Homo sapiens: one gene and its partners. The protein of the gene in region 1 purifies or fractionates together with the protein of each later gene. This does not show direct contact. Each region holds a gene or a part of one and is shown in the gene's direction. Other genes may lie near its edges. The genes, in order: HSP90AB1, MYH9, CCDC117 and DNAJC7.

The links.
Region 2: the proteins of HSP90AB1 (region 1) and MYH9 purify together in Homo sapiens (affinity purification with mass spectrometry; 4 studies listed by BioGRID and IntAct, with this or other methods). This does not show direct contact.
Region 3: the proteins of HSP90AB1 (region 1) and CCDC117 purify together in Homo sapiens (affinity purification with mass spectrometry; 4 studies listed by BioGRID and IntAct, with this or other methods). This does not show direct contact.
Region 4: the proteins of HSP90AB1 (region 1) and DNAJC7 purify together in Homo sapiens (affinity purification with western blotting; 3 studies listed by BioGRID and IntAct, with this or other methods). This does not show direct contact.

What each region holds. Positions count from the first base shown.
Region 1 is NC_000006.12:44,249,379-44,255,177, forward strand, and holds the end of HSP90AB1 (heat shock protein HSP 90-beta), read left to right. Parts: coding exon 1-205; intron 206-296; coding exon 297-456; intron 457-642; coding exon 643-776; intron 777-912; coding exon 913-1,221; intron 1,222-1,669; coding exon 1,670-1,835; intron 1,836-2,039; coding exon 2,040-2,230; intron 2,231-2,358; coding exon 2,359-2,506; intron 2,507-2,620; coding exon 2,621-2,889; intron 2,890-3,666; coding exon 3,667-4,000; intron 4,001-4,110; coding exon 4,111-4,220; 3' UTR 4,221-4,505; downstream 4,506-5,799. Other genes in the region: SLC35B2 (adenosine 3'-phospho 5'-phosphosulfate transporter 1), read right to left, coding at 5,328-5,799. UniProt on the Homo sapiens protein: Molecular chaperone that promotes the maturation, structural maintenance and proper regulation of specific target proteins involved for instance in cell cycle control and signal transduction. Undergoes a functional cycle linked to its ATPase activity.
Region 2 is NC_000022.11:36,286,968-36,295,483, reverse strand, and holds part of MYH9 (myosin-9), read left to right. Parts: intron 1-407; coding exon 408-552; intron 553-1,185; coding exon 1,186-1,392; intron 1,393-1,620; coding exon 1,621-1,725; intron 1,726-2,002; coding exon 2,003-2,155; intron 2,156-3,249; coding exon 3,250-3,498; intron 3,499-6,186; coding exon 6,187-6,399; intron 6,400-6,544; coding exon 6,545-6,757; intron 6,758-7,070; coding exon 7,071-7,232; intron 7,233-8,516. UniProt on the Homo sapiens protein: Cellular myosin that appears to play a role in cytokinesis, cell shape, and specialized functions such as secretion and capping. Required for cortical actin clearance prior to oocyte exocytosis. Promotes cell motility in conjunction with S100A4.
Region 3 is NC_000022.11:28,768,447-28,775,694, forward strand, and holds the start of CCDC117 (coiled-coil domain-containing protein 117), read left to right. Parts: upstream 1-4,248; 5' UTR 4,249-4,403; coding exon 4,404-4,588; intron 4,589-4,690; exon of another isoform or gene 4,691-4,777; intron 4,778-5,278; coding exon 5,279-5,332; intron 5,333-7,248. UniProt on the Homo sapiens protein: Facilitates DNA repair, cell cycle progression, and cell proliferation through its interaction with CIAO2B.
Region 4 is NC_000017.11:42,006,754-42,015,269, reverse strand, and holds part of DNAJC7 (dnaJ homolog subfamily C member 7), read left to right. Parts: intron 1-8,516. UniProt on the Homo sapiens protein: Acts as a co-chaperone regulating the molecular chaperones HSP70 and HSP90 in folding of steroid receptors, such as the glucocorticoid receptor and the progesterone receptor.

The sequences.
Region 1 (5,799 bases):
CTTGGACAAGATTCGCTATGAGAGCCTGACAGACCCTTCGAAGTTGGACAGTGGTAAAGAGCTGAAAATTGACATCATCCCCAACCCTCAGGAACGTACCCTGACTTTGGTAGACACAGGCATTGGCATGACCAAAGCTGATCTCATAAATAATTTGGGAACCATTGCCAAGTCTGGTACTAAAGCATTCATGGAGGCTCTTCAGGTATTGCAGTTCTGTAGGCATTCATACTTATCTGTGTTCTTTGGTTTTTTGCTTCTTTAAAACTTGTGATTGACTTTAAACTTGTTGGCAGGCTGGTGCAGACATCTCCATGATTGGGCAGTTTGGTGTTGGCTTTTATTCTGCCTACTTGGTGGCAGAGAAAGTGGTTGTGATCACAAAGCACAACGATGATGAACAGTATGCTTGGGAGTCTTCTGCTGGAGGTTCCTTCACTGTGCGTGCTGACCATGGTAAGTTAGCTTTTCTGTTACAAGGTAGTTGGGTTAGGATTTTCTGGGCTCACACCAGTAGCAGAAATTTTGGGCATCCTGTCTGTAAAGCAGTTCTTCACAGCAGTTCTGCTGATACTTACTAATTGCTGGTCTCAACTGCATATACTTTTTACCCTGTTACACGCTTGTAATTGACTCTTCTAGGTGAGCCCATTGGCAGGGGTACCAAAGTGATCCTCCATCTTAAAGAAGATCAGACAGAGTACCTAGAAGAGAGGCGGGTCAAAGAAGTAGTGAAGAAGCATTCTCAGTTCATAGGCTATCCCATCACCCTTTATGTGAGTATGGACTTTTAAATCTTTTACACTTAACGTGCAGGATGTTTCCTGTTCTGGAGAATCTCATTGTCCCTGGCTTTTGCTTTCCCTGGTAGTGTTTTGTACTCCAAGGCTAACTTCTGTTTTTGTTACTTAGTTGGAGAAGGAACGAGAGAAGGAAATTAGTGATGATGAGGCAGAGGAAGAGAAAGGTGAGAAAGAAGAGGAAGATAAAGATGATGAAGAAAAACCCAAGATCGAAGATGTGGGTTCAGATGAGGAGGATGACAGCGGTAAGGATAAGAAGAAGAAAACTAAGAAGATCAAAGAGAAATACATTGATCAGGAAGAACTAAACAAGACCAAGCCTATTTGGACCAGAAACCCTGATGACATCACCCAAGAGGAGTATGGAGAATTCTACAAGAGCCTCACTAATGACTGGGAAGACCACTTGGCAGTCAAGGTGTGAGAAGCCTTTGCATGTTGGCTCAACATGCACATATGGAGAGGAATGAGTTAGGTGGAAGAGTGTTGGGTAATAGACACACGGAACTTGTCCAACTGATAACAGAAATGTGATAGCCATGTGATTTCACTTACTGATTACCCTGTCATAGTGAAGTGCCATCATTTCTAATGACCTCACTTTCTCTTCTTATGGAAATCTGGGTAATGTCTATTGGCAGCCTTACACATCCAGGGTTCTGATCAGAGGGGACTGTTTTCTACATACAGCTAGTACCCATCTAGATCGTGGAGGGCATTAAGGCTCAGTTTTCTCAGGAGCTGCTTGTTGTGTGTGCTCTATCCCTTAGGCTTAGGGAGGATCATTGTTCCACTTTTAGATAATTTGGTGTTGGGGCTAAAAGGTCCTCTTTTGAAATGTACCACTTATTTTTGGTTTCTTTCAGCACTTTTCTGTAGAAGGTCAGTTGGAATTCAGGGCATTGCTATTTATTCCTCGTCGGGCTCCCTTTGACCTTTTTGAGAACAAGAAGAAAAAGAACAACATCAAACTCTATGTCCGCCGTGTGTTCATCATGGACAGCTGTGATGAGTTGATACCAGAGTATCTCAGTGAGTATCTCCTTGGCCTAATTTAGTTGGGTGAAGTCTTGGGAGGTTTTAGGCATTCTGCTAGGATATTCTAAGGTAACAGTTTTCTGCAATACATAGTAGGTGTAAGGGTTCAGGAGGCTATTAGAGCCTTCTGTTTGAATCTGGGGACCAGGTCTGGTCTAGCTGTTTTTTACTGAGCTTTCTCACCCTGGTTGATGGCAGATTTTATCCGTGGTGTGGTTGACTCTGAGGATCTGCCCCTGAACATCTCCCGAGAAATGCTCCAGCAGAGCAAAATCTTGAAAGTCATTCGCAAAAACATTGTTAAGAAGTGCCTTGAGCTCTTCTCTGAGCTGGCAGAAGACAAGGAGAATTACAAGAAATTCTATGAGGCATTCTCTAAAAATCTCAAGGTAAAAAGGCAAATAATGCTTATTCCCTTTACCACTTTCTTAGTAATAACAATAAATTATTCCATTCACATTGAAAGTGAAGTTATTGTAGTTAAGCTGGATTGTTTTTCCTCTTCCCACCCTTCAAGCTTGGAATCCACGAAGACTCCACTAACCGCCGCCGCCTGTCTGAGCTGCTGCGCTATCATACCTCCCAGTCTGGAGATGAGATGACATCTCTGTCAGAGTATGTTTCTCGCATGAAGGAGACACAGAAGTCCATCTATTACATCACTGGTGCGTTGACTCTGATTGAAGCCTTTTTGGAGGAGTGGGGAGCACAATTAGGGCTTCCTGGGAACTGGCAGTATGAGGCATTTTAGTCACTGAGTTCATTTAATTACCCTACAGGTGAGAGCAAAGAGCAGGTGGCCAACTCAGCTTTTGTGGAGCGAGTGCGGAAACGGGGCTTCGAGGTGGTATATATGACCGAGCCCATTGACGAGTACTGTGTGCAGCAGCTCAAGGAATTTGATGGGAAGAGCCTGGTCTCAGTTACCAAGGAGGGTCTGGAGCTGCCTGAGGATGAGGAGGAGAAGAAGAAGATGGAAGAGAGCAAGGCAAAGTTTGAGAACCTCTGCAAGCTCATGAAAGAAATCTTAGATAAGAAGGTTGAGAAGGTAAGCCATTCTGGGGCTAGGATATATTTTGTAACATCTTCGAGGTGGGCTCCCTCACAAGCATGTTTCTATACAATTAGTGGTTTGAGGCAGCCTATTTACTGTTTCATGCCTTCTTGCCTCTTGTTCTCTTCTCTAGTCAGGTTTAAGGCTATTTTAATAAAATTTGGCACAGATTAGGCATTGCTTCAGTTAACTTCTGAGAGTAGATAAAATACCATCATTTTCTTTTTTTTTTCTTTTTTTGAGATGGGGTCTCGCTCTGTCACCCAGGCTGGAGTGCAGTGGCACGATCTCTGCTCATTGCAAGCTCCGCCTCCTGGGTTCACGCCATTCTCCTGCCTTAGCCTCCTGAGTAGCTGCCACTACAGGCGCCCGCCACCACACCCCGGCTAATTTTTTGTATTTTTAGTAGAGATGGGGTTTCATCGCGTTAGCCAGGATGGTCTCCATCTCCTGACCTTGTGATTCGCCCACCTCGGCCTCCCAAAGTGCTGGGATTAACAGGCGCAAGCCACCATGCCTGGCCGATTTTTTTTTTTTTTGGACTGGATCTCGCTCACTGCAAACTCAAGTCTCCTGAGTGGCTGGGATTACAGATGTGTGCTACCACACCCGGTTAATTTTTTGTAGACAGGGTTTTGCCATGTTGGCCAGCATGGTCTCAAACTCAAGTGGTCTGTCCACCTCCTCCCCCTGCTGGAATTAGGCTTGACAATGCCTGTTTTCTCTTTCAAAGTGGTAATGTCAATCTAAGGCTTTTGTGATCGTCCACAGGTGACAATCTCCAATAGACTTGTGTCTTCACCTTGCTGCATTGTGACCAGCACCTACGGCTGGACAGCCAATATGGAGCGGATCATGAAAGCCCAGGCACTTCGGGACAACTCCACCATGGGCTATATGATGGCCAAAAAGCACCTGGAGATCAACCCTGACCACCCCATTGTGGAGACGCTGCGGCAGAAGGCTGAGGCCGACAAGAATGATAAGGCAGTTAAGGACCTGGTGGTGCTGCTGTTTGAAACCGCCCTGCTATCTTCTGGCTTTTCCCTTGAGGATCCCCAGACCCACTCCAACCGCATCTATCGCATGATCAAGCTAGGTCTAGGTAAGTAGCTTTGGTACTTGGTGTGGCAAGGAGTTTGTGCAACTCGTCTCCTCTATGGATTTGACTTAATGCTATTTGGTCAAGTCTCACATGGCTTAATTTTACTTCAGGTATTGATGAAGATGAAGTGGCAGCAGAGGAACCCAATGCTGCAGTTCCTGATGAGATCCCCCCTCTCGAGGGCGATGAGGATGCGTCTCGCATGGAAGAAGTCGATTAGGTTAGGAGTTCATAGTTGGAAAACTTGTGCCCTTGTATAGTGTCCCCATGGGCTCCCACTGCAGCCTCGAGTGCCCCTGTCCCACCTGGCTCCCCCTGCTGGTGTCTAGTGTTTTTTTCCCTCTCCTGTCCTTGTGTTGAAGGCAGTAAACTAAGGGTGTCAAGCCCCATTCCCTCTCTACTCTTGACAGCAGGATTGGATGTTGTGTATTGTGGTTTATTTTATTTTCTTCATTTTGTTCTGAAATTAAAGTATGCAAAATAAAGAATATGCCGTTTTTATACAGTTCTGCTTTCCCTTGTGAAGTGGATGTTATCCTTCCCTAGCTTCTTCATCCCTCCAGCTCTTGCTGTTTTCATGAGCACAGCAAGTTGAGCTGGTTTTGTAGTGAAAATAACAGAATACCAGTGAGTCTTAAGAGTTCACACACTGAAGCTAAAGGCAGTTTGGAAAAACTACCATATAATAATGCCCTTTCAGTCAACCAAAACACAGGACCAAGTCCACTGCAGTAATTTAATTTAATAAAATAAAATTATAAGAGCAAAAAGTTACATTTCTAAAGTACCAAAACCTGCAACAGGCTCATGGAACAGAGCCTAGGGATCCAGGAGCATAGGAGGTGGTGGTGCTGGGCAGGGCTCTGCATCCCCTTTCCTCAGCACAGCACCATCTTCACCCTCCTGGGAAAGCAGCATTGGAGCCTACACCGCTTGTGCTTTTCTCACCAGGGTAAGAAATGCAGGTATTTGCAGAGGGGAGTGAGTCTGGAAGGTGGCAGAGCACAGCTAGGGCAAGACTTAAGGGAACTTGTGGGAAGAGTAACTGGAACCTACCTATGCTCTCTTGACCCCAAACTCCCCAAAACCCCTCACTGAGGACTGTCTACCCCCGGGGCTCAGAATAAACTGCTTACTGGAAGATGGGTGACTTAAGGCAAAAGGGAAGGCTGCCTCCTGGGCTCCCCAATCCCCTGCTGCAGAGCTGGTCTGTGATACTGAGAAAACACCTGCATTTTGCCCTTTCAGCCAGCTCCCTCAGAGGTTACAGCAGAAGGGGATGGTGGGAGGGTCCTATTTCACTTCACCCCTCAGGCCCTTTCCACCCTCAAACCTTCTGCACAGGAGACTCAACAGGCACAGCCTTCTTTCCCCGTTGCTTTAGACGGCCCCGCGCGTAGACTCTGAGCAGGAGGGCAGCAAAGACCACAGCCACCCCCAGCCCTCCCACCACAGTGACAGTGTGGCCATAGAGAAGGCAGGAAAGAAGGATGGCAAAGGCCTGGCGGAGGGTCATGATGATGGTGAAGACGGCAGCCCCAAACTGCCCAATGGTGTAAAAGATGAAGAGCTGGCCACATGCGGAGCAGATGGAGAGTAGCAGGGCATGGGCAGCAAACTCACTGTGTCGCCCCATGAAGCGGGTTCCCTCCAGTAGGGCCCCCTGTTCTAGCAGTGAGCCCACTGTGAAGAGGCAGGAGAAGAAATTGACCCCAAACATCATCTGCACCGATGACATCTTATAGGCAAACAGGGCATCCTGCCAGTTTGAGGTGAAGCTGTCAAAAGCAATATAACCT
Region 2 (8,516 bases), on another chromosome or scaffold:
CTCGGGATGGGGAGGGCAGCCAGGGGGGCCTTGGCTTGGAGACATGGACCCCGGGCCTCTGCACACACACACACACACACACCGTGGCCCTCTTAGGCACCAGCAGGCATGGAAGCTGCTGGTTCCTCAGCGGTTTCTCTCTACAGAGTAGAAAGTCTGTTGAAGGACCTGGCTCAAAGTTGGGGGTGAGGCAAGGCTGGGCTTTAAAGCTGAAAGGCTACAGAAGCTCTCACAGGGCGTATTTGAGCCTGGGCTATGGGATAGATGGCTAGGAGGGGCCGGTGGGTAGAAAAGCTGCCTGGAGTGCCTGTGCCCTGGCCAGGCCTCTCTTTGGTCAGGGAAGAGCCCCAGGGACAGCCTCGCTCCAGCATCCCCGGCCTCCACTCTGAGGGGATTTCTCTGTCCAGGTCAAAACGTGAGCAGGAGGTGAACATCCTGAAGAAGACCCTGGAGGAGGAGGCCAAGACCCACGAGGCCCAGATCCAGGAGATGAGGCAGAAGCACTCACAGGCCGTGGAGGAGCTGGCGGAGCAGCTGGAGCAGACGAAGCGGGTGCGGAGCCTCCCTGAGACCGCAGGGGGAGGGCAGGGTTCCCCGTGCTGGGCCCACAGAATCCAAACCAGTCCTGCAGAGCAGTTGCAGGGTTCTACCCAACTGCCTGGTTCTGAGGCCAGGCTCCCCTTCTAAGGGGCTTTGTGACTCGTGCCTCAGTTTCCCTGTTCATAAGGGAGGATTATGGTATGTCTGTCTCGTGATTATTTGAGGGTGAAAACATTACATCGTTACTTTGAACATCAGACTTCAGACAGGCTTTATTGGAAGTCTAACTGCAAACAATTATAGTTCCCCTTATTGCGTTACAAATATTGCTAACATCTGCAACACCAATGCCATGCCCTAGAACCTGGCCTCTACCCAGGGCAGAAGGCTGGGCAGGTATTATTTTAGAGATGGGGAAGCTGTGAGATGTCCTAAGCAGTGAAGACAGGAACCAAGTGTCACCCACCAGCTAAGAGAGAAGAGGACAGGACAGATGAGGCCCGAGCCGTCTGAGTCCAGGACGCAGGCACACCGTCGTCAGGGCTGCAGAAGCAGCGATGTCTGGATCTAGGGTCCAGTGATGATAGACCAGCCAGCCTTGTGTCAGGAGGCCCCCACTCACGTCTTTGCTTTCTTCCCTGCTAGGTGAAAGCAAACCTCGAGAAGGCAAAGCAGACTCTGGAGAACGAGCGGGGGGAGCTGGCCAACGAGGTGAAGGTGCTGCTGCAGGGCAAAGGGGACTCGGAGCACAAGCGCAAGAAAGTGGAGGCGCAGCTGCAGGAGCTGCAGGTCAAGTTCAACGAGGGAGAGCGCGTGCGCACAGAGCTGGCCGACAAGGTCACCAAGCTGCAGGTGAGGCCTCCGCCAGGACCCTGGCGCGGGCAGTGGGCCCTAGCAGCAGTTGTGGCCCAGGTCCCCAGGTGCATGTGTGCTCTCTGTCTCTCTCTCTTCTCAAACTGGCTCCTCAGACCCTCATGGTTCAGCTTGTGACTCAGGTCCAGCTTTACCTAAAGGAGATGAGGTGGGGCAGGAGCAGTGGGGGTGGGTCCATGGTCCTTTGTGTCTCCCCGCCCGGTGCAGGTGGAGCTGGACAACGTGACCGGGCTTCTCAGCCAGTCCGACAGCAAGTCCAGCAAGCTCACCAAGGACTTCTCCGCGCTGGAGTCCCAGCTGCAGGACACTCAGGTAGGGGTGGCGCCAGGTTCCCAGAAGGTGGACCCCTCCAGAAAGGCCTCTGTGTCCACGCAACATTAGCTTCAGAGCCCATCGGATTGCCCATCCTCTCCTTCATCTGCTTCATCCTGTGGGTGGGTCTCTGCGTCCTCCCAGCTCCCTCCAGGTCTTTACGTGGCCATCCCCTAAATCAGCAGGACCAGCTCCTCCCTCTCCTCAAGGGTGTGGGGTTCCTGGGTTTTGGACACCACCCTCCTAAGCACCCGCACCCCTCTCAACCCGCGAGTAGGAGCTGCTGCAGGAGGAGAACCGGCAGAAGCTGAGCCTGAGCACCAAGCTCAAGCAGGTGGAGGACGAGAAGAATTCCTTCCGGGAGCAGCTGGAGGAGGAGGAGGAGGCCAAGCACAACCTGGAGAAGCAGATCGCCACCCTCCATGCCCAGGTTTGGAGGCCTGGGGGACCGGCCGGACTCTGCAGGCTGGGGAGCTGCTGGCCGGGCACTGGCCTGGGCACTGCAGGACAGCCCTGCCCGCTGGGCCGGCCCATTGCTGCTCTCCCCCTGGGAAGCCAACCGTGCTCTCCCACATCAGTGCTCTCAAGGAAAGGAATCCAGGGATCTGTGGACTTAGATGGGGGACACCACTATTTTCACTATTTTACACCTTTATTTTCACCAGTCTTTAGCTGAAATTCAGCATTGCTTCCATTATGGATGTAGGCAGCAAGCCATGGTGGTGGCAGTCCCTGTGCCGTCATCATCTGTAGAAATGGCCAGTTACCCTGTCAGGGTTGTGGCCGAGCTCCTTGGCCTCATGGGTCCCAGGCCTGCGCTGTTTGTTATCTGATGTGCTATCTAGCAGCACGTGGCTTCCTGAGCCATGGTTTTTTAGAATGTGTGACAACTGCATTTTTCTGTACTGGTTGCCCTGCTGATCCCATGTTTATTTCATGCCTGTTACAACATTGTCATGAGAAGGAGTCCCTTGGCCTCTCTAGACTGCGAAGGGGTCCGTAGCCTAATATGGTTTCAGAGCCCCTGCTCTAGATCCTATCTTGGGCCTCCATGTGCCAGGCCAGAAGGCCTGAACCACCTCGGGATGGGCTGGGAGTCCATTCCACAGTCAGGGTAGGAGTAGCCCGCGAGCGTGCCTGATTGTGGGTTTATCTCCAAGTGCAAGGATGGGGCTGGGTGATGGGGACCCCGTGGACACCCTACAGGGCACTGGCCCTGCTCTCTGGGAGCAGTCTCCGTAGAGCAAGAGGCTTGGTGTGGATGTGGGCTGGGAGCCCCCACAGCGGGCCTGGGGGTCAGCCTCCCCCGGGCTTCACACAGTAGACAGATGCCCCTTTGCAGAAGCTCCATTTGTCTCGCCCCTGTGGAGAGGGAAGTGACTGGGGGAGGCGGTTTCATAACTGGGCAGATCCCTGGTGCCCCTTCCACGGTGTGGCAGGCAGGCTCCCAGCTGCCCCAGGGACGGGTGTGCCACCTGAGCAGGTGCCATCTCGGGCATCTGCTTACTCCTTGCTCCTGCCCAGGTGGCCGACATGAAAAAGAAGATGGAGGACAGTGTGGGGTGCCTGGAAACTGCTGAGGAGGTGAAGAGGAAGCTCCAGAAGGACCTGGAGGGCCTGAGCCAGCGGCACGAGGAGAAGGTGGCCGCCTACGACAAGCTGGAGAAGACCAAGACGCGGCTGCAGCAGGAGCTGGACGACCTGCTGGTGGACCTGGACCACCAGCGCCAGAGCGCGTGCAACCTGGAGAAGAAGCAGAAGAAGTTTGACCAGGTGTGTGGCCGTTGGCCCCATCCTTTGCATTTCCTCTCCTTCAAGCACTGAGTCCAAAGCAAAGGGCCCATCAGAGAAAGCCTGGGCTCCCTCAGGGTCTCGCCGGGGAGGGGCCGTGCGGGGCCAGTGCTTAGAGGACCCTCAGGCTCTGGCTTGTTGAGGGTCCCAGGGAGAAGGCCAGCGGAAGAGGGCGTCTTCATGCGATGGGTTGAGGAGTGACTTTTCCTTTCTGATTTTTTACATTTTTCAGATTTTCTCTAATGAACTGGTTTGACTGTCTTTTTTTTTTTTTTTTTTTTTTTAATTTTTTTATTGATCATTCTTGGGTGTTTCTCGCAGAGGGGGATTTGGCAGGGTCATAGGACAATAGTGGAGGGAAGGTCAGCAGATAAACAAGTGAACAAAGGTCTCCGGTTTTCCTAGGCAGAGGACCCTTTGGCCTTCCGCAGTGTTTGTGTCCCTGGGTACTTGAGATTAGGGAGTGGTGATGACTCTTAAGAGCATGCTGCCTTCAAGCATCTGTTTAACAAAGCACATCTTGCACCGCCCTTAATCCATTTAACCCTGAGTGGACACAGCACATGTTTCAGAGAGCACAGGGTTGGGGGTAAGGTCACAGATCAACAAGATCCCAAGGCAGAAGAATTTTTCTTGTACACAACAAAATGAAAAGTCTCCCATGTATACTTCTTTCTACACAGACACGGCAACCATCCGATTTCTCAATCTTTTCCCCACCTTTCCCCCCTTTCTATTCCACAAAACCGCCATTGTCATCATGGCCCGCTATCAATGAGCTGTTGGGTACACCTCCCAGACGGGGTGGTGGCCTGGCAGAGGGGCTCCTCACTAACCAGTAGGGGCGGCCGGGCAGAGGCGCCCCTCACCTCCCGGACGGGGCGGCTGGCCTGGCGGGGGGCTGACCCCCCCACCTCCCTCCCGGATGGGGTGGCTGCCGGGCGGAGACGCTCCTCACTTCCCAGACGGGGTGGCCGCCGGGCGGAGGGGCTCCTCACCTCTCAGACGGGGCGGCTGCAGGGCGGAGGGGCTCCTCACCTCTCAGACGGGGCGGTTGCCAGGCAGAGGGTCTCCTCACTTCTCAGACGGGGCGGCCGGGCAGAGATGCTCCTCACCTCCCAGACGGGGTCGCCACTGGGCAGAGGCACTCCTCACATCCCAGACGGGGCGGCGGGGCAGAGGCGCTCCCCACATCTCAGACGATGGGCGGCCGGGCAGAGACGCTCCTCACTTCCTAGATGTGATGGCGGCCGGGAAGAGGCGCTCCTCACCTCCTAGATGGGATGGCGGCCGGGCAGAGACACCCCTCACCTTCCAGACTGGGCAGCCAGGCAGAGGGGCTCCTCACATCCCAGACGATGGGCGGCCAGGCAGAGACGCTCCTCACTTCCCAGATGGGGTGGCGGCCGGGAAGAGGCTGCAATCTTGGCATTTTGGGAGGCCAAGGCAGGCGGCTGGGAGGTGGAGGCTGTAGCAAGCCGAGATCACGCCACTGCACTCCAGCCTGGGCTCCATTGAGCACTGAGTTAAAATCACTTTAATTATCATTATATCATTACATTATTATAATTATTTAATTATAGTTTGGGTTTTTTTAAAATAGTTTGGGTTTTTTTTTTTTTTTTTTTTGGAGACTGTCTCTGTCTGTTGCCCAGGCTGGGGTGCCGTGGTGCAACCACAGCTCAAGTGATCCTCCCACATCAGCTTCCTGAGTGGCTGGGACCACAGGCGTGCACCACCACCACACCCAGCTAATTTTTAGATGTTTTTCATAGTGACAGGGATCTCACCATATCGCCCAGGCTGGTCTCAAACTCCTGCGGTTTGACTGTCTTTTAAACGATTTATTTATGCATTCATATCACTTCCTTATTCCAAAAGATCTGAGAGCAGCTGAGGGGGATGTGGACTCGGGGGCAGGATAGAACAGTAGAAGACATCGGGCAGCCAACTGTGGTAGCCGGATCCGGCCCCTGCATTTTGTAGGGAACGATAGACTGAACACAGCCACGCTCCATGGTTCTCATGTTGTCTCTGGTTGCTTTGTGCTGTGGTAGTGGGGTTGAGCCATTGCTGCAGAGACTGTAGGGCCTGCATACTCTAAAGAATGCACTATCTGGCCCTTTAGGAAATGGTCAGCAACCCATGGGATAATTAAGGTTTGGGCCAAAAGGAAGGGAAGGTGGGGAAATAGGATAGAGCCAGGTGGGTGCACACAGAGAACAGATGCCAGGGGACAGCAGCTGTCATTAGAGAAGACCACAAATGGGGTTCAGGCTTCTTGGCAGCCAGCTTGGCATTCACTTCGTGAAAAGTGCCAACCAAATGCCAGCTGTGGTTCAGGAGAACCAAAGCTCTTACAGGTTTGGAGGGCTCTCATGGAAGGGGCAGCGTGCCATAAAGGGTTGCGATTAGTAAGTGATGAAAATTAAACAGACGTTACAACATGGTGTTCGCAGTAGTGCCTGCTCCAGTCGGCAGTCATCCCATCATGAGGATGCACGGGACTGTGTGTATTGTCCTGGGCACAGCCCTGGGCCTGTGCTTCCTAGGCCTGCTCCTCTCCACCGTGGCCTCTGGGCTCCTCCTTCCCCAGGGAGCTTAGGCCCAGCTGCCCTGCCCTGCTGGGGGCCGTAGCTCTGAGCCTCATGGTGCCCACCTCTTTCCCAGCTCCTGGCGGAGGAGAAGACCATCTCTGCCAAGTATGCAGAGGAGCGCGACCGGGCTGAGGCGGAGGCCCGAGAGAAGGAGACCAAGGCTCTGTCGCTGGCCCGGGCCCTGGAGGAAGCCATGGAGCAGAAGGCGGAGCTGGAGCGGCTCAACAAGCAGTTCCGCACGGAGATGGAGGACCTTATGAGCTCCAAGGATGATGTGGGCAAGAGTGTGAGTCCTGGGCCTGGCAGCCAGGTCTTGGGAAGGGCCCGAGTGGGGTCATCACAGAGGGTCGGTGTGTGCACAGACTCCGGGTCGCGCAGACCCAGGTACCTGCCAGTCCCTTTGCTCCTGACTTGGGCTCTCTGGGGCTCAGGTCCACGAGCTGGAGAAGTCCAAGCGGGCCCTAGAGCAGCAGGTGGAGGAGATGAAGACGCAGCTGGAAGAGCTGGAGGACGAGCTGCAGGCCACCGAAGATGCCAAGCTGCGGTTGGAGGTCAACCTGCAGGCCATGAAGGCCCAGTTCGAGCGGGACCTGCAGGGCCGGGACGAGCAGAGCGAGGAGAAGAAGAAGCAGCTGGTCAGACAGGTGTGCATGGCCTCCTGCTACCCCATGGGTGCCCAAGGCTGCCTTGGCTTCACGCAGGCTTCTGTTCTCTCCTTCCACCTGGATTGTGTTAGGGCCCCTTGACCACGCCTCCCCTCCCATATTCCTTCTTTCTAGCCTCCTGTCTCGGGGTTCAGTGACTCACTTTCTTAGAGTTCTTATGGTCAGTAATCCCCACTGGTTTCCCGAGGCCCCATGGATCCTGCAGAACTGGCCTGAGGCTCCTGAGTTCAGAGCTAGGGCAGGGTCTCCCAGTGGGTCCAGCTTCCCAAGTTGTTGATGTTCCTTCCCCCAGGTGCGGGAGATGGAGGCAGAGCTGGAGGACGAGAGGAAGCAGCGCTCGATGGCAGTGGCCGCCCGGAAGAAGCTGGAGATGGACCTGAAGGACCTGGAGGCGCACATCGACTCGGCCAACAAGAACCGGGACGAAGCCATCAAACAGCTGCGGAAGCTGCAGGTAAGGGTGGGCGGGGCCCAGGTGAGGGTGGGCGGCACCCGACTGAGCCAACTACATATGAAGGTGCCAGGGCTCGGCCCAGGGCGGGAACCTGGCAGGGTGGCACCTCCTGGGAAGGTCCTGGGTGCTTCCAGCCCCATCTCACTGACAGAGACTCAGAGGCTCAGAGGTGAGTGGAAACATGATAGTCCAACAGCAAACTTGCAAAACGGTGTATGACTGGGTACATAAAACACAGAAGCAAACAAGTACAAGCCTAGACATGGGTGGAGTTCAAGAAGGTCTCACTTAATGCAGACTTCCAGAATCACCCGGGTCCTGACACCCTTCAGCCTTCTGGGCTCTGGGGCGATGGTTCCAAGAAGCAGCCCGGAGTGTGGGACACATACTTGGAAATCTTCACCTCACTAATAATTAAAGAATAATTAACACGTAAAAACAGCTCTGATACGCCATATCATGTAACAAGAATAACCTTAGTTTAACAAATTTTTTTTTGTTTGTTTGTTTGAGACGGAGTCTCGCTCTGTCGCTCAGGCTGGAGTGCAGTGGCATGATCTCGGCTTGCTGCAAGCTCCGCCTCCCGGGTTCACGCCATTCTCCTGCCTCAGCCTCCCCAGCAGCTGGGACTACAGGCGCACGCCGCCACGCCCGGCTAATTTTTGTATTTTTAGTAGAGACGGGGTTTCACCATGTTAGCCAGGATGGTCTCAATCTCCTGACCTTGTGATCCACCCGCCTCGGCCTCCCAAAGTGCTGGGATTACAAGCATGAGCCACTGCGCCCGGCCAAAAAAAAAATGTTAAGTGTAAAAAAAAAACCCACAAAAACTTTAAAACTTCATTGTGGTCAAGGTTGTGGGCATAGATGCTCTGATTGCTGGTGGCATTTTTTTACTGGTGTGGTCGGGCTGCACACAGCCAGTCACTCTCTTTGATTTGGGGAATCTCAATTTCGGATTTATCTGCAAAAGGAAAAAAAGGCTATTTGACAAAGGTCTTTAGTGTTAAAAGAAGTAACAGGAGAATAACAAAAGGAAAGGTGTTTCCTGCCTGTGGTGGGGATGGACCGGCAGGCTGGGCACTGGTTTTGAGTGGCAGGTGCGCATTAGGGGTGGCACCATGGGCACTGGCTTCCGGCCCACAGGAGGGGACAGAAAGTAGAAAATGAAGCTCAGCTTGGGCTCACGTCCACGGTGACGAACACTGTCAAAGTGTGCATTACGGGGTGGGATACACAGATGATTGTCTTTAGTTGCCTTTTTGCCCTGTCACCACGGTTAGT
Region 3 (7,248 bases), on another chromosome or scaffold:
CAGTAGTAGCTAGGACAACAGGCATGCACCATCATGCCTGGCTAATTTTTTAGGTTTTATTTTTTTTGGAGACTGGGTCTTGCTATATTGCCCAGACTTGTCTTGAACTTCTGGCTTCAAGCCACATCAGCCTCCCAAAGTGCTGGGATTTCAGATGTGAGCCACCACACCCAGCCTGGAAAAATATTTTTTTTTTTTTTTTTCCCCTAAACCCCAGAGTCAACAAGACTATTTGGTAGCCAAGGCTGGAAAAAAGGATATTTTTTAAGGTAAGGAATGAGGTGGCCATTTGTAGAAATTGCCCAGGAGAGTATCTTTTATATCCAGTTAAGCAGGATTTTACTTTAAGAATGCAAAATTGAATTGTAAATGGCATTAAGAAAACTGAAACCCAATCCATTATCTTGGCAAAGGGGGTTCGTTAGTTTTCTCTTGCATCATCACAATGGCAATAGAGTTAGAGAGGAATGGGGAGAATCTGGAAGCATTTTGCAAGTAAAGTCCATAGAACTTGCTAACTGACTAGATATGGGTGTGAACAAAAGAGAGGCATTCATGGTGATGCCTTGGTTTTTGGTCAGAAAGAGAAAAGTATCTTCTGACAGAGGAAACTTCCTTGATACTGGGAGGTGAAGCCAGCTGAGCTTCTGAGTCCAGTGAGGACTTGGAGAACTTTTGTGTCTAGTCAAAGGATTGTAAATGCACCAATCGGTGCTCTGTGTCTAGCTAAAGGATTGTAAATGCACCAATCAGCACTCTGTAAAAACGCACCAATTAGCACTCTGTAAAATGGACCAATCAGCGCTCAGTAAAATGGACCAATCAGCACTCTGTAAAATGGACCAATCAGCAGGATGTGGGCAAGACCAAATAAGGGAATAAAAGCTGGCCACTTGAGACAGCAGCGCCAACCTGTTCGTGTTCCTTTTCACACTGTAGGTTTGTTCTTTCACTGTTCACAGTAAATCTTGCTGCTGCCCACTCTGGGTTTGCACTGCCTTTATGAGCCATAACACCCACCGCGAGGATCTGCTGCTTCATTCCTGAAGTCAGCAAGATCACAAACGCACCTGGCAGAACAAACAACTCCTGACAGGCCACCTTTAAGAGCTGTAACACTCACTGTGAAGGTCTGCAGGTTCTCTCCTGAAGTCAGCAAGACCACGCACCCACCGGAAGGAAGAAACTCCGGACACATTTGAACATCTGAAGTAACAAACTGCAGACGCACCATCTTTAAGAGCTGTAACACTCACCGCGAAGGTCCATGGCTTCGTTCTTGAAGTTGGGAAGACCAAGAACCAACCGGAAAGAATAAATTCCAGACACAATACTGTTAGACTTCATTGTCCTCCTGTTAAACATAAAAATTTCACAGAGCGTTATCAAACAAGGCTATTCTGACCTCATGGATCACGACAAAAACAAGTTCACTTAATCCTGTCCAAATACAGGCAAAAGCATAAACATTGTCCAAACCACAAAAATTGCTAAATACCACCCTACCCTAACTGATATGAAGGACTGTTGCTACTTTACCAGTTAGAGGTTGAGCTTTCCTTCATTCCTCACACCTTATAGAAAAGATTGGTTAAGATACCCAATCACAGCGGGCAGATCACTTGAAGTCAGGAGTTTGAGGCCAGCCTGGCCAACATGGTGAAACCCCATCTCTACTAAAAATACAAAAATTAGCCAGGCAAGGTGGCACACACCTGTAATCCCAGCTACTCAGGAGGCTGAGGCACGAGAATTGCTTGAACCTGGGAGGGAGAGGCTGCAGTGAGCCAAGATAGCACCACTGCACTCCAGTCTGGGCAACAGAGTGACACACTGTCTCAAAACAAAAAGGACACCCAATCACAAATTTATCCCCACTTCCAGACAGAATTAATTCCAGAGCAAAGCTGTTTTCTTTCTTTTCTTTTTCCTTTCCTTTTCTTTCTCTTGCCCTTTCGCCCAGGCTGGAGTGCAATGGCACGATCTCGAATCTCAGCTCACTACAACCTCTGCCTCCTGGGCTCCCCGACTCAAGCTATTCTCCTGCCTCAGCCTTCTGAGTAGCCGGGACTACAGGCGCCCACCACCATGCCTGGCTAATTTTTGTATTTTTAGTAGAGACAGGGTTTCACCATATTGACAAGGCTGGTCTTGAACTCCTGACCTTGTGATCCCACTGCCTCGGCCTCCCAAAGTGCTGGGATTACAGGTGTGAGCCACTGCACCTGGCCGAAAAGTTCTTTTTTTTTTTTTTTGGAGAGGGAGTCTCGCTGTGTCTCCCTTGCTGGAGTGCGGTGGCGTGATCTCCGCTCACTGCAAGCTCCGCCTGCCGGGTTCACGCCATTCTCCTGCCTCAGCCTCCCAAGTAGCTGGGACTACAGGCACCCGCCACCACCCCCGGCTAATTTTTTGTATTTATTTATTTATTTGTTTATTTATTTATTTATTTTGTGAGACAGAGTCTCACTCTGTTGCCCAGGCTGGAGTGCAGTGATATGATCTCGGCTCACTGCAAGCTCCGCCTCCCGGGTTCACGCCATTCTCCTGCCTCAGCATCCCGAGTAGCTGGGACTACAGGCGCCCACCACCACGCCCGGCTAATTTTTTGTATTTTTAGTAGAGACGGGGTTTCACCGTGTTAGCCAGGATGATCTCGCTCTCCTGACCTCGTGATCCACCTGCCTCGGCCTCCCAAAGTGCTGGGATTACAGGCGTGAGCCACGGAGCCCAGCCAAAAGCTGTTTTTTAAAACCTTCCCTCAAAACGTCTAACACAACCCCAAATCCTATAAAAAGCCTTTGTAACACCTCCTAAGGGAGAAATTTCCTCACTGGAATGAGTAGATAAACCTTTCTTTGTTCAATTATGTACATGTGTGTGCTTTGGCTGAAGGGCATTGACATTGGCATAAGCAGTTTCGATTGGATGGTGGTGCTGTTGTGAGATGGAAAAAACAGGGCATAGTCAGTGATTGGGGGTTGACCATCTGCCAAGCCCAGGCAGGAGATACTGCCTCTGAATGCCCCAAAGAGGCTGGAAGGCTTGCCAGTACCTGTCACAAGTGCTCTGAGGCTTTTGTTTTTGTTTAAGTCCTGAGTTTACTTTTTTTTTTTTTTTTTTTTGAGACACGGTCTTGCTCTGTCACTCAGACTGGAGTGCAGTGGTGTAATTATAGCCCACTGTAACCTCAAACTCATGGGCTCAAGCAATCCTCTCACCTCAGCCTCCCCAGTAGCTAGGACTACAGACATGCACTACCACGGTGGGCTAATTGTTATTTTTTTGTTGTTGAGATAGGGTCAAGCTAGACCTAGGATGGACTCCTGGCCTCAAGCGATTCTCCCACCTCCCACCTCCGACCTCCCAAAGTGATGGGATCACAGGCGTGAGCCACCTTGCCGCGCAACTGAGGTGTTTTTTTGTTTTGTTTTGTTTCTTGAGACGTAGTCTCGCTCTGCCACCCAGGCTGGAGTGCAGTGGCACGATCGCGGCTCACTGCAACCTCCGCCTCCCGGGTTCAAGCGATTCTCCTGCCTCAGCCTCCCGAGTACATGGGATTACAGGCGCGCACCACCACACCTGGCTAATTTTTTATATTTTTGGTAGAGACGGGATTTCACCACGTAGGCCAGGCTGGTCTTGAACTCCTGACCTCAAGTGATTCGCCCACCTCGGCCTCCCAAAGTGGTAAGATTACAGGCGTGAGCCACCGCCCCCAGCCAGCAGCTGAGGTTTTTACTTAATTTTCTATGCTGTTCTAAGGCACCACCAACTTCATTTGTATTAAAATTGTTACATTTTTATTAATAGAGTCACATATGAATAACTGATAATGAGCGTGTATTGTATGTCAGGCACTGCTTTAAGGGCTCTAGATTGTTTTTGTTTTGAGACAGGGTCTCCCGGGCTCAAGAGATCCTCCCGCCTCCACCTTCCAAATTGCTGGGATTACACGAGTGAGCCACCGCCCTGCCCTGGCTCTAGATGTTTAAATTCATGTACTCCGCACATCAACTCTATGATTATATGTACTATTATTATCTCATTTTACTACTGTGGAAACTGAGATACGAAACTTGCGGAGTGAGGATTTGAACCTAGGTCATACTCTTGGCCAGCCAGAGACACCCTAAGCCCCAGCTAAGAGGTCGAGAAGCAGCCATTTTGCTTGTAGTCCGGAAGGACTGCAAATCCCGGCATCCCTCGCGGCAGCGGCCCTCTACACACAACAAATCCCGGCATGCCCCCGAGCGGCCTGAGGTGGAGGGTTCTAGAAGGCGTGACGTGGGGTCGAGAGCGGGATCCGAGGCTGGCGGGTTTTGGCAGTAGCTGTGGCTGCGGCTGCCGGGCCTGGGGACGCGGGCGGCCGAGGCCGCCGTCGCAGCCTCCTCGTCTCGCCGGCTATGGCTGCGCTCGGCCGGCCCTTCAGCGGCCTCCCTCTGAGCGGCGGCTCGGACTTCCTGCAGCCGCCGCAGCCGGCCTTCCCCGGCCGGGCCTTCCCGCCGGGGGCTGACGGCGCCGAGTTGGCCCCGCGGCCGGGACCTCGCGCAGTCCCTAGCAGTCCCGCTGGGAGTGCGGCGCGCGGACGGTGAGGAGCCCGTCGGGCGCAGGGCGCAGGGCGGGCGGGCGGGCGGGCAGGCTGGGCGCCCCTCGCGGCGGGCGCGGGCAGGGGCGCGGGCTCCGCGCCGGGGCTTTTTGACTCCCTCCCCACGGCCCTCCGCGGGAGCTTCGCAGCCCAGTTTACAGATGAAGAAACTGATCCCCGGAGACGTTAACTGTAAGTCGCCGGGGGTCACATAGCCCAGGAGTCCGGTCCGAACCTCAGCTCGACTGCGGCCCGGAGAAGTGAGACTTTCCCAGTTGGAACCTGGGCGACTCGGTCTGGGTGCCCCCTCGGCGCGGCCGCTGTTAGTGACAACTTTCAGTGTCTCATCTGCAAAGTATGCCAAGCATGGGACAGAAATGGGTCCTCTTAGTGAGATTATTTAAATAAAGTGCTTAACACAGCGCCTGCCCCGAGGACGTTTCCCTGGTTTGGTCCTCCCTAATCTGTCTTCCATTACGTTGATAAAAGGACAAGTTGAGATTTCACTGTCCAGTTCTGTCGGGGCAATCCACCGTTACCCGACTGACCTGTGATTTGTACCCATCCCACTAGGCTCAGAAAGGGACGTTTGGTATGTGGGGATGAGCAAGATTATTGGAGCAAGAAAGAGGATACTGAAACCACAAGCTCGAGTACATTTCTTAATTGACTGATTTTTGTTTGTTTCAACAGTGTTTCTGTTCACTGTAAAAAGAAACACAAGCGAGAGGAGGAGGAGGATGATGAGTAAGTTTCAGTGGTTGTTTATTCACTCTGTGGTCACCGTTAGTTGAACCCCTGTTATAGTCTAAATTACTTAAGTGAAAAGGTGAAACATTAGATGAGTGTCTCTGGAAAGAGACACAGAAATTAGTGACATTGGTTGTCTTTTAGAGAAAGTAACAGTGGCAGGCAGACAGGTCAGAGGGAAACTTTTCGCTCTATAACAAGTTGTAATATTTGGATTTTGAGCCATGTTAATATTACATGCACAAAGTAAAATAATTTAAAGGATACATATTGAAAAGTTTTGTTTTTGTTTTTTTTTTTTTTTGGGACGGAGTCTGCCTCTGTCGCCCAGGCTGGAGTGCAGTGGCGCTATGTGGGCTCACTGCAATCTCCGCCTCCCGGCTTCATGCCATTCTCCTGCCTCAGCCTCCCGAGTAGCTGGGACTACAGGCGCCCGCCACCACGCCTGGCAATTTTTTTTTTTTTTTAGTAGAGACGGGGTTTCACTGTGTTAGCCAGGGTGGTCTTGATCTTCTGACTTCATGATCCTCCCGCCTCAGCCTCCCAAAGTGCTGAGATTACAGGCCTGAGCCGCCCCGGCCTGAAAAGTCTTTTTTTTTTTTTTTTTTTTAAAGTCAGGGGCTCTGTCACCCAAGCTGGAGTGCAGTTGTGTGATCACAGCTCACTGCAGCCTCAAACTCCTTGGGCTCAAATGATCCCTCAGCTTCAGCCTCCTGAACAGCTGAGACTACAGACTTGTGCCACCAGGCTCAGCTAATTTTTTAAAAAATTTTTTGTAGAGATGGTGTCTCACTATGTTGCCCAGTCTGGTCATGAACTTCTGGCCTCAAGCAGTCCTCCCAACTCTGGGATTACAGGTGTGAACCGTCCCCCAGGCTGTATTACAAAATCTTTTACTCCACACCCCTAGTTTTCCCCACCAGAGACAACCCCCTTACCTGTTTTCATTGTCTCCTTTAGAAGATAATCTAAAAATTTACCAAGTTCACAAGTGTTTTTCTTTTTCTTTCTTTTTTTCTTTTTTGAGACAAGGCCTCATTCTGTCAGGCTGGAGTGCAGTGGCTGTGTTTTTACATTTGTAGGAAGATATGGTTCACACTGTGCAACACATTGATCTTTTCATTTTACTCTTCTGTAGCTTGTTGCATATCAGCACATAGAGAGAGGTTTACGTAATTTCTCTTTCAATAGTTGAGTGGAGGCCAGGCGTGGTGGCTCACACCTGTAATCCCAGCACTTTGGGAGGCTGAGAAGGGCAGATCAGGAGGTCAGGAGTTTGAGACCAGCTTGGCCAGCATGGTGAAACCCCATCTCTATTAAAATACAAAAATTAGCCATGGGTAGTGGTGCGTAACTGTAATGCCAGCTACTCAGGAGGCTGAGGCAGGAGAATCACTTGAACCCGGGAGGTGGAGGTTGCAGTGAGCCAAGATTGCGCCATTGCACTCCAGCCTGGGCAGTAGAGTGAGACTCCGTCTCAAAAAAACAAAAGAAAGTAGTTGTGTGGAATTCTATCGTAGGACTTGGTGTAGATAATTAACCAATTTCCTATTGATGCATTTCTAAATTATTTCTAATCTTTTGCTATTACAATCTACCCTGACCATTCTTTTGAAGTTCTTTGTATATGTTTGGAAGTATATGAATGATTTCCTTGACGTGGAATTGCTGGGTCTTAAAGTGTGTGCATTTTAAATTTTGAACGTGAGTTTTTGCCAATTTATATGCCCATTAACATCCTCTGAACACAAGTGTGTTTTTAAACTTCGGGATTGCTGCCCAACTAATAGATGAAAAATTATATCTCATAAACAGTCTAATAGAAAAAGAAGTAAGGCCAGGCGCGGTGGCTCACACCTGTAATCCCGGCACTTTGGGAAGCCGAGGCAGGTGGATCACGAGGTCAGGAGTTC
Region 4 (8,516 bases), on another chromosome or scaffold:
AGTAGCTCACACCTGTAATCCCAGCACTTTGGGAGGCCGAGGCAGGTGGGTCAGCTGAGGTCGGGAGTTTGAAACCAGCATGGCCAACATGGCAGAACCCTGTCTCTACTAAAAATACAAAAATTAGCGGGGCGTGGTGGCACACACATGTAATCCCAGTTACACGGGAGGCTGAGGCAGGAGAATCGCTTGAACTCAGGAGGTGGAGGTTGCAGTGAGCTGAGATCGGGCCATTGCACTCCAGCCTGGGTGACAAAGTGAGATTCCATCTCAAAAAAAAGTCATTGATTGCAGAATGCAAATTATTTTATCTGTCACTAAGAAAATGTAACTGTAAATTAAACATGACAACATGCATTATTCCTGTAGTTCAAATAGTGACAGAAAAAAATTAATTAAAAAAAGAAAAAAGACTGGGCGTGGTGGCTCACACCTGTAATCCCAGCACTTTGGGAGGCCAAGGCGGGTGGATTACCTGAGGTCAGGAGTTCGAAACCAGCCTGACTAATACGGTGAAACCCCATCTACTAAAAATACAAAAATTAGCCAGGTGGGGTGATGCTGTAATCCCAGCTAGTCAGGAGGCTGAGGCAGAGGTTGTGGTGAGGGGAGATCATGCCATTGCACTCCAGCCTGGGCAACAAGAGCAAAACTCCGTCTCAAAAAAAAAAAAATCAATTAAAAAAAGAAAAAAATGCATTCTTATCAGACTTTTATGTTTCTCATATATAGCACTGTTTTCGACAGACTTAAACATAGTTATTTATTATATACCACTTTTTTGCACAAATCAAAAGGAAAATTGGCTGGGTGCAGTGGCTCACACTTGTAATCCCATCATTTTGGGAGGCTGAGGTGGGCGGATCACGAGGTCAGGAGTTTGAGACCAGCCTGGCCAACATGGTGAAACCCCATCTCTACTAAAAATAGAAAAAATAGCTGGGCGTAGTGGTGGGCACCTGTAATCCCAGCTACTCGGGAGTCTGAGGCAGGAGAGTCGCTTGAACCCGGGAGGCGGAGGTTGCAGTGAGCCAAGGTCACACCATTGCACTCCAGCCTGGGCGACATGGTGAGACTCCATTTCAAAAAAAAAAAAGGAAAATAAGTGAAATAAACAAAAAAATCAGTTTAACTTTTTGCCATATCAGACATCCTTAGAAGAATAAACATTGGCCGGGCGCGGTGGCTTATGCCTATAATCCCAGCACTTTGGGAGGCTAAAGCAGGCTGATCACCTGAGGTCGGGAGTTTGAGACCAGCCTGACCAACATGGAGAAACCCCATCTCTACTAAAAATAGAAAAAAAAAATTAGCCAGGCATGGCGGTGCATGCCTGTAGCCCCACCGACTTGGAGGCTGAGGCAGGAGAATCACTTGAATCCGGTAGGCGGAGGTTGCGGTGAGCCGAGATCGTGCCATTGCACTCCAACCTGGGCGACAAGAGTGAAACTCTGTCTCAAAAAAAAGAATAAACATTAGGCTCTGTTAGTATGAAAAAGCCTTGTTTATGTATGATTTTTCCAGTGCTGAAAATGGGATGGAGATTTAGAAGCTTTGGAGGGAGGTGGTTTTATGTTTTTCATGTGTCCTGGATTCCTCTTGTGTGGCCATAGCAGAGGGCAGTGATAGGGGCATCCCTTACAAATGCCCTTTTACTGTCTGGCTTGGTTAGAGTTCTTTGGCCAAGTTCCTGCCTCTGTTGTTATGGTCCTCCTACCAGTTCATTTAGGGATCAAGAGTTAATGAGTCTCTCGGGTCGTTTTTGTGAGGTCCAGCTTTGTAAGGAGTCCTTCCTTCCTTACGTCTTGGCTTAAGACATGTCCTGCTGCTGCTAAGTTGTCACAGTCCCATAGGGGGGCAAAATGAGAGGAGCTTTTAAGACGGACTTCACGATTGCAGCATTTTAAATGGCTACATGTTTTATTTCCTTAGCTTTAGTGTTTCTGTAGAGAAAAGAGATGGATTTCAATTTTTTTGCATGTCACTCTGACAAAGTTCTGTTTCCCTTACAGCAGCCAAGAAACTAAAATAAGGCTAGGCTTAGTGGCTCATGCCTGTAATCTTAGCACTTTGTGAGGCCAAAATGAGAGGATCGCTTAAGCCCAGTAGTTTGAGACCAGCCTGGGCAACATAGTGAGACTTAGTCTCTATAAAAACATTTAAGGCTGGGTGCGGTGGCTCACGCCTGTAATTCCAGCACCTTGGGAGGCTGAGGCCAGTGGATTGCTTGAGGCCAGGAGTTCGAGACCAACCTGGGCAACGTGGTGAAACCCGCCCCCCATCTCTGTAAAAAAAAAATACAAAAATTAGCAGGGTGTGATGGTGCATACCTGTAGGCCCTGCTACTTGGGACGCTGAGGTGTAAGTATCACCTGAGCTGGGGGAGGTCGAGGCTGCAGTGAGCTGCGATCACACCACTGCACTGCATCCTGGGTGACAGAGTGAAACCCTGTCTCAAAAAAAAGGGTTGGGGCTAAAATAAAAGATATATTAGTTGGCACTCCAAAACAGATCAGGATTCTATGCATGAAGATTATTTCTCTTTGCTCACCAAAACAGGCAAAGCTATTTATGAGCCAGAGGGTTAAACTTCAGATGTTTCACATTTCAACTAACTTAAGGCTTTATATTTTCCTGGGAAGTTGCTGACTGCTTTACCTAATATGGGAATACCTGTCTTGAATTAAGGATCTCTTGTTATATCTCCTGGGCTGGGAAACAGCTTGATCTCTATAGGGAGTCTTTCTTATGGTAAACTTGAGGGATTTCAAATTGTTTTCTTTTCTTTTTGACGGAGTCTCGCTCTGTCACCAGGCTGGAGTGCAGTGGTGTGATCTCAGCTCACTGCAAACTCCGCCTCCTGGGTTCAAATGATTCTCCTGCCTCAGCCTCCCGAGTAGCTGGGACTATAGGCGTGTGCCACCACACCCAGCTAATTTTTGTATTTTTAATAGAGACGGAGTTTTACCATGTTGGCCAGGATGGTCTCGATCTCTTAACCTCATGATCCGCCCGCCTTGTCCTCCCAAAGTGCTGGGATTACAGGCGTGGGCCACTACACCCAACCTCAAATTGTTTTTCAAAGAGAAAACACTTACGTGTCTCAGCATATACCTAGTGTGACTGGACAACAAGATCTAAAAGAATCAAGGGATCCATAGACTTAAGAGTCAGGACATCCTTACCTGATTCCTTGAGCTGATAAACTTAACTTCTCTGTATGTTTTCCTGATGGGCACAAATAAGAGCAATTCTTATTAGGCCCTTACTACCTAGGTATTGTACACTCTTTGCGATTAGGATTTTGCCTTTTATTTCTCTATTCAGATTGTTAATGGGAACAACTGAACTCTCAATTCATGTCCCGGGTTTCCTGTAGTTGCTGTTCGTTTGCTGCAGCTTTGCATGGTGTTTTTGAGTTTGTGGCCTCACTTAACTGAAGAGCTTGTGGGCATGCCTCCCCAGCTTTCTTCCTTACCTGGTTTTAAATTCTTAGGAATGTGTCCTTCTAATCTTCCTCTTGAAGTTTCAGAGCAAGCACCTAGACATTTCAGTAAGCCTCCAAACTGAGTGGGAATTTATCTTTGACCTGGAACCCAAATCAGTGAGAAACACTATTTTCCTTTTGCTGTGCACTAAGTGTAGTCAGATGTGAAGAAATGGGAGATGGGAGGAGAAATAAGTTAAGGAAGGGATAAACCTAGGAATACAGAATTCTCAATACCGGCAAATTAATTGAACCCTGATACTAACAGATGGCAAAGTAGATAATCATAACTGGAGCAAAGGTAGAGTACAGAGAAAGGTTCTCTCTTAGTGCTTTAGTTCAGATCCACATGTTAACTAGTGCCAGAGAAACAAGAATTTTGAGAAAATATAGGGCCAAGTGAGTGGCAGTTGCTTAGAGTCCAGTCCACTCCCAACAAACAGAACTCTGATTGGCCGAAAGCCCAGCCTTATTGTACATTCCAGCCAATCAGGGATTAGTTTAGTCATTGAAGTTTGTATTTTAATGGTTTTGAAAAGCTGAGTACTGGGCACTTGCTTTTTTGTTCTTCGGGACTTTAGAAGTTTGGAGAACAATAGTCAGCAGTTGCCTAGTTGCTTTGTGGCCTGATGCAGAGTCCCTCTGAGAGCCCATTTCTCCCTTACTGCACTAGTCTTTGGTCCCCTTTCTCCAGCACTGAGTGATGTGGAAGTTACTCAGAGGTCTTTCCAGGTATTCTTTTAAACTTTTGAAGTAAGAACAAAATTCAAAGTGCAGTTATCCTAACAGGCTATTCATTTTATTGGAGTGACACTGTTTTTCCTTCTCCCATTCGGATCAAAATGGCAATTCCTATGTTTTACCCTCACCATGGGTAAGAATATGAGTGGTTGAGGCTTTTGAGAATGGTAATAGGAGGAATATATGACTCTCAGGTCTTATTCTGAGACGTGAAATTCTATTGGCATGTGACTTACAATTTGTGTGGGGAGGCCAGATTGTCAGATAAGCAGTGTTAACCATCTCTCTTGATTCTAATATTACTTTTGGAGAGAGTGTGAGGGGCAAGCAGGACCCTCTCTTGTTTTTGGAGTTTCTGTCCTGAGAGTTCTTCCTTGGACAGTTTGCCCTGAGACAGTTAACCACCTGTTGAACTAAGGAACCAAGACAACTTTGAGAAGTGAAATACCGTTGACAATCCAGGCTCCTCCCCACTCTAGTTCCCATCTCCACCCCACCCCACTCCACCCAAAAAAACTCAGGAAGCAGCCTTTATATATATATATTTTTGAGACAGAGTTTCATTCTTGTTGCCCAGGCTGGAGTGCAATGGCGCAATCTTGGCTCACTGCAGCCTCCGCCTCCCGGGTTCAAGCAATTCTCCTGAGTCAGCTTCCTGAGTAGCTGGAATTACAGGCATGCGCCACCACGCCCGGCTAATTTTGTATTTTTTTTTTTTTTTGTAGAGACAGGGTTTCTCCATGTTGGTCAGTCTGGTCTCGAACTCCCGACCTCAGGTGATCCACCCGCCTTGGCCTCCCAAAGTGCTGGGATTATAGGCGTGAGCCACTGCACCCGGCCTAGGAAGTAGCCTCTTTCTTTCTCTCTTTCTGTCTGTCTCTTTCTTTCTTTCTTTCTTTGTGATGGAGTCTTGCTGTGTCTCCAGGCTGGAGTGTGCAATGGCACGATCTCGGCTCACTGCAATCTCCGCTTCCTGGGTTCAAGCTATCCTCCTGCCTCAGCCTCCTGAGTAGCTGGGACTACAGTTGCATGCCACCATGCCCAGCTAATTTTTTATATTTTTAGTAGAGACGGGTTTCACCATGTTGGCCAGGATGGTCTTGATCTCATCACCTCAGGATCTGCCCGCCTCGGCCTCCCAAGTGCTGGGATTACAGGCGTGAGCCACTGCGCCAGGGCAAAGCAGCCTTTTCCTTAATTGTAGTTCCTCAGTTTTAAATTTTTGATGGGTGCTGGTGTCCCTATAGTGGGAGATGTCACAGAATAGGGAACCGAGGGATGGAAAATGGTGGGTTTGGGGATATGTTATGAAAACAAGCCTCTGGCTAATGCTGAAAAGCCAGTGACTTGTATCCTCAGAATGGTTTCAGAGAAGCATGTTTCCCAGAAGTAGCTTCATTGTTGGGTCTCCTCTCCCCAGGGATAAGTGAAGGTTAGGTAGATGTAATAGATTGTGACACCTCTCATTTAAGGACCTAAAATAAATTTCCAACTCACCGTTGAGACAAGTATTTCCAAGTGAATATGTTTCTGCCTGCAGTGATGGGATTTCTGTAGGGATTGAATTGGTTGCTTGCTTTTTCTTCCTTACTGAATAAGGCATAGCCAGCTGCATAGCCAGGCACAGCTTGCTGGCTGGTGTCCGTCCCTGCCTGAACAGTAGGGAGTGCTGCTGCTTTGTGTAGACAGTCTGTGACTCCTCTGGTGCATTTTGGGTCCCTTCTGACTCTGCCCGTGTTGAGGCTTCTCCTTGAATGTCCACCCAGAGGACAATTTGAACTGGTATGTTAAGGAATTTTCTTCATCTTCTGCCTTCTCTTTATTAGCGGAGATGTGTGGAGGGTTGTTCCATTTGTGCTTTAAAGTGAAAACTATCTATTCTGTAGGAAATTGGGTAAAGAAAGCTGAGTAGCAGATAGCTTTGCTAAAAGGTAGCAGTTGGATAGCGCTCACCTTCTATTTTTTTCTGGATGAAGCACCGAGCATAAATACCTTGCCATATTTATAGAATTATTCCAAGTCATATATCTATGGCCCGGCGTGATGGCTCACGCCTTTAATCCCAACACTTTGGAAGGCAGAGATTGGCGGATCACTTGAGGTCAGAAGTTTGAAGACCAGCCTGGCCAACATGGCAAGACCTCATCTCTACTAAAATAAACAAAGATTAGCCAGGCATGGTAGTGGGGCCCTGTAATCTCAGCTACTCAGGAGGCTGAGGCAGGAGAATCACTTGAACCTGGGAGGCAGAGGTTGCTGTGAACTGAGATCACACCACTGCACTCCAGCCTGGGCAACAAGAGTGAGAGTCTGTCTCAAAAAATATATGTCTGACCCGGCGCGGTGGCTCACGCCTGTAATCCCAGCACTTTGGGAGGCCGAGGCGGGCGGATCATGAGGTCAGGAGATTGAGACCATCCTGGCTAACACGGTGAAACCCCGTCTCTACTAAAAATACAAAAAAATTAGCTGGGCGTGGTGGCAGGCGCCTGTAGTCACAGCTACTTGGGAGGCTGAGGCAGGAGAATGGCGTGAACCTAGGAGGCGGAGCTTGCAATGAGCCGAGATGGCGCCACTGCACTCCAACCTGGGTGACAGAGCGAGACTCCGTCTCAAAAAAAAAAATCTATATCTATATATATATATCTATACCTGTGACTTCCACTTATCTATGTGAAACTTATATTGACATTTCACTTGTAGAATAGTAGATTTTTTTTTTTTTCTTTTTTGAGACGGAGTCTCACTCTTGCCCAGGCTGGAGTGCAATGGCACAGTCTCGGCTCACTGCAACCTCCGCCTCCTGGGTTCAAATAATTCTCCCGCCTCAGCCTCCCGAATAGGTGGGATTACAGGCACCCTCCATCATGCCCGGCTAATTTTTGTATTTTTGTAGAGATGGGGTTTCACCATGTTGCCTAGGCTGGTCTTGAACTTCTGACCTCAGGTGATCCACCCTCCTTGGCCTCCCAAAGTGCTGGGATTATAGACATGAGCCACCTTGCCCAGCCTAGATTTTTTTTTAAAAAAGAAACTTCTTACCGGGCACATGCCTGTAATCCCAGCTACTTGGGAGGCTGAGACAGGAGAATCAGTTGAACCTGGGAGGCGGAGGTTGCGGTGAGCTGAGATCACGCCATTGCACTCCAGCCTGGGCAACAAGAGCGAAATTCTGTCTCAAAAAAAAAAAAAAAAAAAAAAAAGGCAGTTTTTTCTGGCCAATTGTGGTGGCTCATCATGTGTGTAATCTTAGCACTTTGGGAGGCTGAGGAGGTGGATTGCCTGAGCTCAAGAGTTTGAGACCAGCCTGGGCAACATAGTGAAACCCCATCTCTACTAAAATACAAAAATTTAGCTGGGCATGGTGGTGCGTGCCTGTAGTCCCAGCTACCAGGGAGGCTGAGGCACAAGAATCGCTTGAACCTGGGAGGTGAAGATTGCAGTGAGCCGAGATCTCACCACTGCACTCTGGCCTGGGCAATAGAATGAGACTGTCTCCAAAAAAAAAGAAATTTTTTTCTTAAAGAAGAATCTAAATGATATGCTTTTGGTAAGATGGAATAGAAGTTAGGCTCCTGGGCTCCTTTTACTTTATTTTGTCATGAAGGTCAGGGAGAGTGCAACATGAAACAGGCCCTGTGACATGCCATTGGGGACAAGAGGTCTCGGACTGTGGGAAGGAGGAAAGAATTTCTACTCTGACTGGCCAAGATCCCGTGAATTCTGAAGGGTGGAGGGCATTTCTAGATCAACAGGCAACTAGTAAGTTTGACTGAATAAAATAAATGGAGCACAACAATCATAGAGTAAGGCGACATTTGGGGAGTAGTAAATATAAGAGGAATGCATAAGGGATATTGACTCATTGGCAGTATAAAGTATTATTATTAATAGCCTAAAGGAAAAGAAAAGTATCTTTTTCTTTTTCTTTTTTTTTTTTGAGACAGGATCTTGCTCTGTTGCCCAGGCTGGAGTGCAGTGGCGCGATGTCAGCTCACCGCAAGCTCCATCTCCCGGGTTCACACCATTCTCCTGCCTCAGCCTACTGAGTAGCTGGGACTACAGGCGCCTGCCACCTTGCCTGGCTAATCCTTTTTTGTACTTTTAGTAGAGATGGGGTTTCACCGTGTTAGCCAGGATGGTCTTGATCTCCTGACCTTGTGATCTGCCTGCCCAGCCTCCCAAAGTGCTGGGATTATAGGCGTGAGCCACCGTGCCTGGACTTTTTTTTTTTTTTTTTTTTTTGAGACGGAGTCTTGCTCTGTTGCCCAGGCTGGAGTGCAGTGGT